Linked DNA regions of Homo sapiens: region 1 is linked to region 2. Evidence: fine-mapped expression QTL. A gene starts in region 2. The other region holds a variant in brackets. All regions are shown on one strand. Distances are between the middles of the regions. Region 1 has its middle 22 kb from the start of CD200R1L-AS1. Region 2 holds the start of GTPBP8 (GTP binding protein 8).

Region 1 (2,924 bases), 210 kb after region 2:
TATCTATCTTAAGGAGCTTGGCAGAAAGGGTGAGTCAGGGTATAGAGCCATTGGGATGGAGCGAGTCAGAGATAAAATAAGAAAATATGTTCTAAGTATAACATGGAAGAGTCAAATTTTGGAATCTCCCAGGCAGGGAGCAGCCATGGCTTTTAGAGGGTGCTCATGACCACAGTGGGTAAGGAGATAGTAAAGACATATATAACCATGTGATTATATATGTATATATATGTAAATGTATGTGTGTGTATATGTATCCACACGTATATAACCACACCAACTTGCTGTCTTTACTCTCTCCTTACCCACTGAGGCCATGAGTACCCTGTAAAAGGGGATAGACTTTACAAAATCTACCAGTCCACAAGATAAGGAATTTGTAATTATTTCTTAAGGTTTGAGTCCATTTGAAGAGTGGTTTGTGTCAAGCAATGAAAAAGCCAAATACGATGTAGTATAAATCAGGATCCAGAGAGGAAAGCTCAGTTCGTGCCAGGTGTCCAATAGAAATAATTTAATACAGGGCACGAGGTACAAAAAGACTGGAAGAGCTGAGAAGCCAAATAGGGCTTCTTAAAGATTAGCAGCTTAAAGATTAGTAACAGCAGGAAGCCACTACCACCCACAGGACTGAAGGGACAAAGAAAGGAGATAGTGTGTACCAGAGCTTGGAAGTCAGAGTCACCTGGAGCTGGATGTGTAACATGTGTAAGATGGCTGCTTGGTGGGAGCTGGGACCATGGAAAAGGGCCCATTGGCATTGGCTGGGATTATGGAGAAGACCATGTCAACACTGGAGATACTGCTGGAAGCAGAGGAAGGGAAGATAAATCCCCTGGCTTCTCCATTCCTCTTATTCCTCAATTTCCTCCTAGTGCTGCCAATGACCATATCTAGCTGGAGGCAGTTGGCAAGGGAGTTTGGAAATTTTATTTATAGGTAAGGGTCCAAAATAAATTTTGGAACAAGCAGGTAAATAACCTGTACAGTGAATTAAATAAAGAGAATTCTCTTGGTCTTTCCCTGAGCACCTGAGGTGGCTGGGACAGCTCCAGCTCTAATGTCCATGCGCAAGGTAGGAAGAAGAGGGAAAGGCTATGCCAATCATTTATGTCTCCATTTACCAGCAAAACTAATTTCTATTTTCCAGAATGTGCCCAGTTGACTTCTATTTAGTTCTCACTGGCCTGGACTGAGCAGCTGAGAAACGGGGAAAAGAATGGTCATAATTGGCTTAGTCCATTTATCCCCATCTGAAGTGGTGCACAATGTTATTATAACCAAAATAAAGGTTTCAGATGGTGAGTAAAAGTGGGAAGTGGAGAGTGAGTAGGTAGCTAAAGTGTCTGCCAAAGAATTAAATGTCTTCTGGACTTTCAATCTTTGCTGACTTACTTTGGACTTTAAAGCTTCTGAGCAGCTTGGTATCCTGGTCCTCACTGAATTTTAACTGTTGGCCCCTCCCTGTTAGATATTTCACTATTTGTTCATAACTTAGTTTGAATCACTAGCACTTGTCCTTAATACTCTGAACTTCCTTCTTTAGTCTATTGTCTCCCAGTTTTGATTACATAAGGACAAATTCAGTATCTACTATGTACCAGGCATTGTTCTAGGAAGGTGAGATACATCAGCGAACAAAACTGGCAAAAAAAATCCTTAACCTCTGTAGAGCTTACATTCTGGTGAACCGAGACAGACAATAAAAAGTAAATAGCATATTAGAA[G/A]GAAGTAAGTGCTATGGAAAAAAACAGAGTAAAGTGGTTGGGATGGGAAGTTTCAGGGTGGAGTGTTCTCAATTTAAAATAGGACACTCAGGGTAGGGCTCTTGGAAGCTGAAGCCTCATCTGACTACTATCTGCATGGTTCTATTTCTCACAGAAAAGGTCAGGCTGGCCTTTCTCATAGTTAGGGAACCTTCCACTTTTCCTGGCTCTAGGGAAAAGCCATGAAAGTTTTCTTGATTCAGTTTTTCTAGCTTTCAAAGAGTAATAATTATGTTATTTGAAGTTAGAATTTATATACTTATTTTGTTCCGGACTGCTGAAAAGAACATGTTAACAGCAAAATCATTCAAGATTTAAGAAAATAAATCTGCTTGCACCAGCAATTTTAAAGTTTGATTAGTTTCCATCAACATATCCCTTATCTAAACATTTCTGAATTAAATAGCTTTTAAAATAGATATGCTACTGTAAAATAAAAATATACTTGAAGAATTTCTAATCATTGACTTCACACTAATTTCATGCTTAACCATGTAATTCTTCTGATTTAAAATTTTGATCTTTTGAACACAGTTTCTTTTTCCCAAGAAGGGGGTGCTATATAAAGATAATTGCTTGGTTGCAAAGACCAAAGTGTTGCTGACCTTTTGCTTGAATATCCATCCCTTTCCTCTTATATTTCACCAGCTTTTAATATATTTCCATCCTTTTCCTCTTATATTTCACCATTAACTCCATCCCTTTCCTCTTATATTTCACCATTAACTCCAAATGAGCCAGGCCTCATCTTTCACCCTATTCCTATCCTAACCAGTAGCCACAATAAGTTCAGAGTGAGATTCCTCAGATACATCCTACCTGCTGTATCCTGAATAAACCAGCTTGACTTGCAGAATTTTAAGCAGGGTAGCCTGAGCTTGTGGGTAATCATTCTTTGAGAAGGTCAGGAGCAATTGTCACTTAAATCCAAAGCCTTACTGTTACCCCAATTTACATTTTCCTCTATTTATGGAATACTACCTCATTTTCATCACTTTCCTAGAACCTATTAGAAATATGTTTTCTTCTATGACCCTAATAGTAACTCAGGAATACTTATATGTTTTGACATAATCTGGAATTTGTGTTTAGAGATTAAAATCTAAGATAATCCAATTCTGTTATATTATTTTAGTGCTGAATTATGTTTTTTAAAAT
Region 2 (2,924 bases):
TGTAGTTCAACAGAACTAGATGAAAAGTACAACTACATGTTTGGAAGCACATTTTCTCAAGCACTCCCATGGTATACTGTAACACCACTGCAATTTAAAAACTTACTCTTTTCCCTTGACCTCTCTTGTTCCAATTAAGCTTGTCTCCTCTGTAGTGTGGAAAACAACAGAATATTCTCGATAATAACCATTAATACACATGGCTCTGCTTTTGAACATGGTATTGGGGGAGGGGGTACAATGCCAATCAGTTGTTCTAAATGACGGCCGTACTGCCCCTTGAGGGACATTTTGGAGATTTTAAGGGCATTTTTGGTTATCAAGACAATTGGGGGACATTTAGTGGGCAGGGGCCAGGGATCCTATCCTGGAAAATTCTGGTCAGTTCTTCAAAATTAATTGATCTGAGTCCTGCAAAAATTTTAAATGCTCTGCCAGAGCAAATCTAATGCTAATATGTAGATAAAACTGAATTTTAAAAACGAATTACAAAAAAGTCCAGTAATTTAGAAGCTTAAATAAAAAAGCAATGGCTGTCTCAAAATCATTAAATAATTGAGGTACTCTTTGAATCCTGACTATAGTTCCACATATATTTAGACGAAATATCTCTGGGCAATGGTGCACTTAGTGTAAATACATATGGAGAGTTGAGATGCCTTTTAGCAGACTTAGAACAGAATATCAATAAATTGTAGGACATGCAAGAATGCTCACTCATGAAATTTCACTAATAAACGTTGTTATAAAAATTTTTCCACATTATTGCCATCTAGAGATTATTATTTTTGCACGATAGGAAATTTAGATTAGGCGAAAGTTACTTATTGATAAGGACCATCTCATTTGTGAAACTATTATTCGTTTCCTATTCTTCACTGTCTAAATTCTGTCTAATTTGTCTGGCATGTTTTCCCTACTTAAGTTAAATAGAAGAAAAAAGGAGAGTTAATTTTTTGAATGCTTAATTTGGGTTTGAAAAGCTTTTAAAGCATTTTGAAGTCTTCTATATTCATTCCAAAATAATTTAAGCTGTATACAGGCAGTCTCTGCTTACAGTGGGTCGACTTAACGATTTTTGACTTTACCATGGGTTTATGGGTATTGACTGCATTTTGTACTTAACAATGGGTTTCTCGGGTATCCCCACGTACAGGGAGCATCGACATATGCCTATTGAGTTAAAATAATATATGCGCCAACATAAAGCTAGAAAATACAACCGCAAAATCACCCGCGAGCCGGACGGCCAGGGAAGCGGTTAGCGCTGTGACGCCGGCGCGCAGGTGAACCGTGAGAATCGCCTCTCACCTCTGGCCGCGGAAGGTCCGGGGCGTGGTCGATACGGACGGCGGAGCTGACGTAGTCGATGCGGTTCCGTTCAGTGGCCGTGAAGATGTTGTCCGCCCTGGCTATGTCCTCCGGGCTTGGGTCAAAGATACGCAGGTGAAGGTCTTGCCTCCCGTAGGGGGCGAGGAACCGCTCTACTTCCTGCAGCGGGTACAGCAGCTTCCTCAGCTGCTGCTTCGGCAGCCGCAGCACCTCAGCAAAAGCTTGGGACGTGCTATTATAGCGGCTCAGTCGCTCTAGCACCGCAGGCATTTCAAAGAGTCTTCCCGCTCCCAGCCGCAGCCCGGGCGCCGCCATTCTCCCTTCCCAGAAGACGGGCAGAGAGATTTTACTCCTGTGGCCTGGGTTGCGCGTGCGTGACTTCCCGCTGCCGCGACGCCTGCTGGGAGTTGTTGTCTCCTCTGGCCTCGCTCGTTCCGGTCTAAGTGTTTTGCCTTCAGTGCGCGGGAGGAGGGTGGAGGCAGGCGGTGACCTGCGGGGAACAGCTCACTGGGTTTCTTTAACACCGTGGGCTTAACGATTATGTCTTACTGGAAGGATGTTTAACGGTTTGCAGAGGTGAAAGACCTATCTGGCCATGTGGCCTTTGAGTCTCAAGCGAAGGACTAAAGTGTGAAGCTCCGATGCATTCCAGGAACGTTTGATTTTCACAGTTTTTGGTTATCTTATTAACTGTTGACGTTTGTCGTAAGTCCGCAGCACTAGGATAAACACTTTTGCAAAAAAGAAAAGGGCTGATGAGAAATGTGATTGTAATAGCACCTCGTTTTCGTGGAAGGGACTGTTTGTATTTCCGCCTTCACTATAGGTGCAGGAAATGTCATTAAATTTTAGAGATTTCTTATAAAAACAGTTTTGCACAGATGTTACAGAATTGTTTCGTGGACGTTTCGTAATATCATCTTATTTCAAAAGTTTCTCCCTAAAGTCGATCAGTACTGAAATGGGAGATACAGGTATCATAATGATGAAATGAATAACTGAAAAATATTCATATGTTAAAAAAACTAGGTTTTCTAAAACATCAGCAGCCCAGAAAGGGTAACTCATGGTTTCTTGAGCTATTCCCCAGGTTGTTCAGTAATTAAACAGTACAATTCTTGAATAAATATGATACAAAAATTAATGAACAGAACCTGCGACTTTGAGGGCAGCCAATACGGCAGCCTGATGTGCTGCTGGCTGGCTAATTTTTTATTGCTCTTTGCATTAGGGTTTGGGGTGCCTTTCTGTTCGCTATTCTCTCTCCTCCATGTATAAAAGTGTGTATAATACTCTGTTGTATACATCAGAAATTTGGGATTCTCATTAGTGTGTGTTTCACTCATCCATGTGAAGAGATCACCAAACAGTCTTTGTGTGAGCAACAAGGCTGTTTATTTCACCTGGGTGCAGGTGGGCTGAGTCCCAAAAGAGAGTCAGCAAAGGTGGTGGGATTATCATTAGTTCTTATAGGTTTTGGGACAGGCGGTGGAGTTAAGAGCAATGTTTTAGGGGCAGAGGGTAGATCTCACAAAGTACATTCTCAAGGGTGGGGAGAATTACAAAGAAACTTCTTAAGGGTGGGGGAGATT

Evidence for each region.
Region 1: its variant is fine-mapped to the expression of GTPBP8 in nasal epithelium (TOPMed, PIP above 0.99).

What each region holds. Positions count from the first base shown.
Region 1 is chr3:112,778,914-112,781,837 of GRCh38, reverse strand. No RefSeq gene overlaps it. Among named protein-coding and RNA genes, the nearest start is that of CD200R1L-AS1, 22 kb to the left of the region's middle. The variant G/A (reference allele first, on the strand shown) is at 1,728.
Region 2 is chr3:112,989,723-112,992,646 of GRCh38, reverse strand. GTPBP8 (GTP binding protein 8) reads right to left here and starts at 1,663. Exons shown (of 6, transcript NM_014170.4): 1 at 1,312-1,663. The coding sequence starts at 1,647. RefSeq lists enhancers at 1,406-1,615, 1,494-2,121.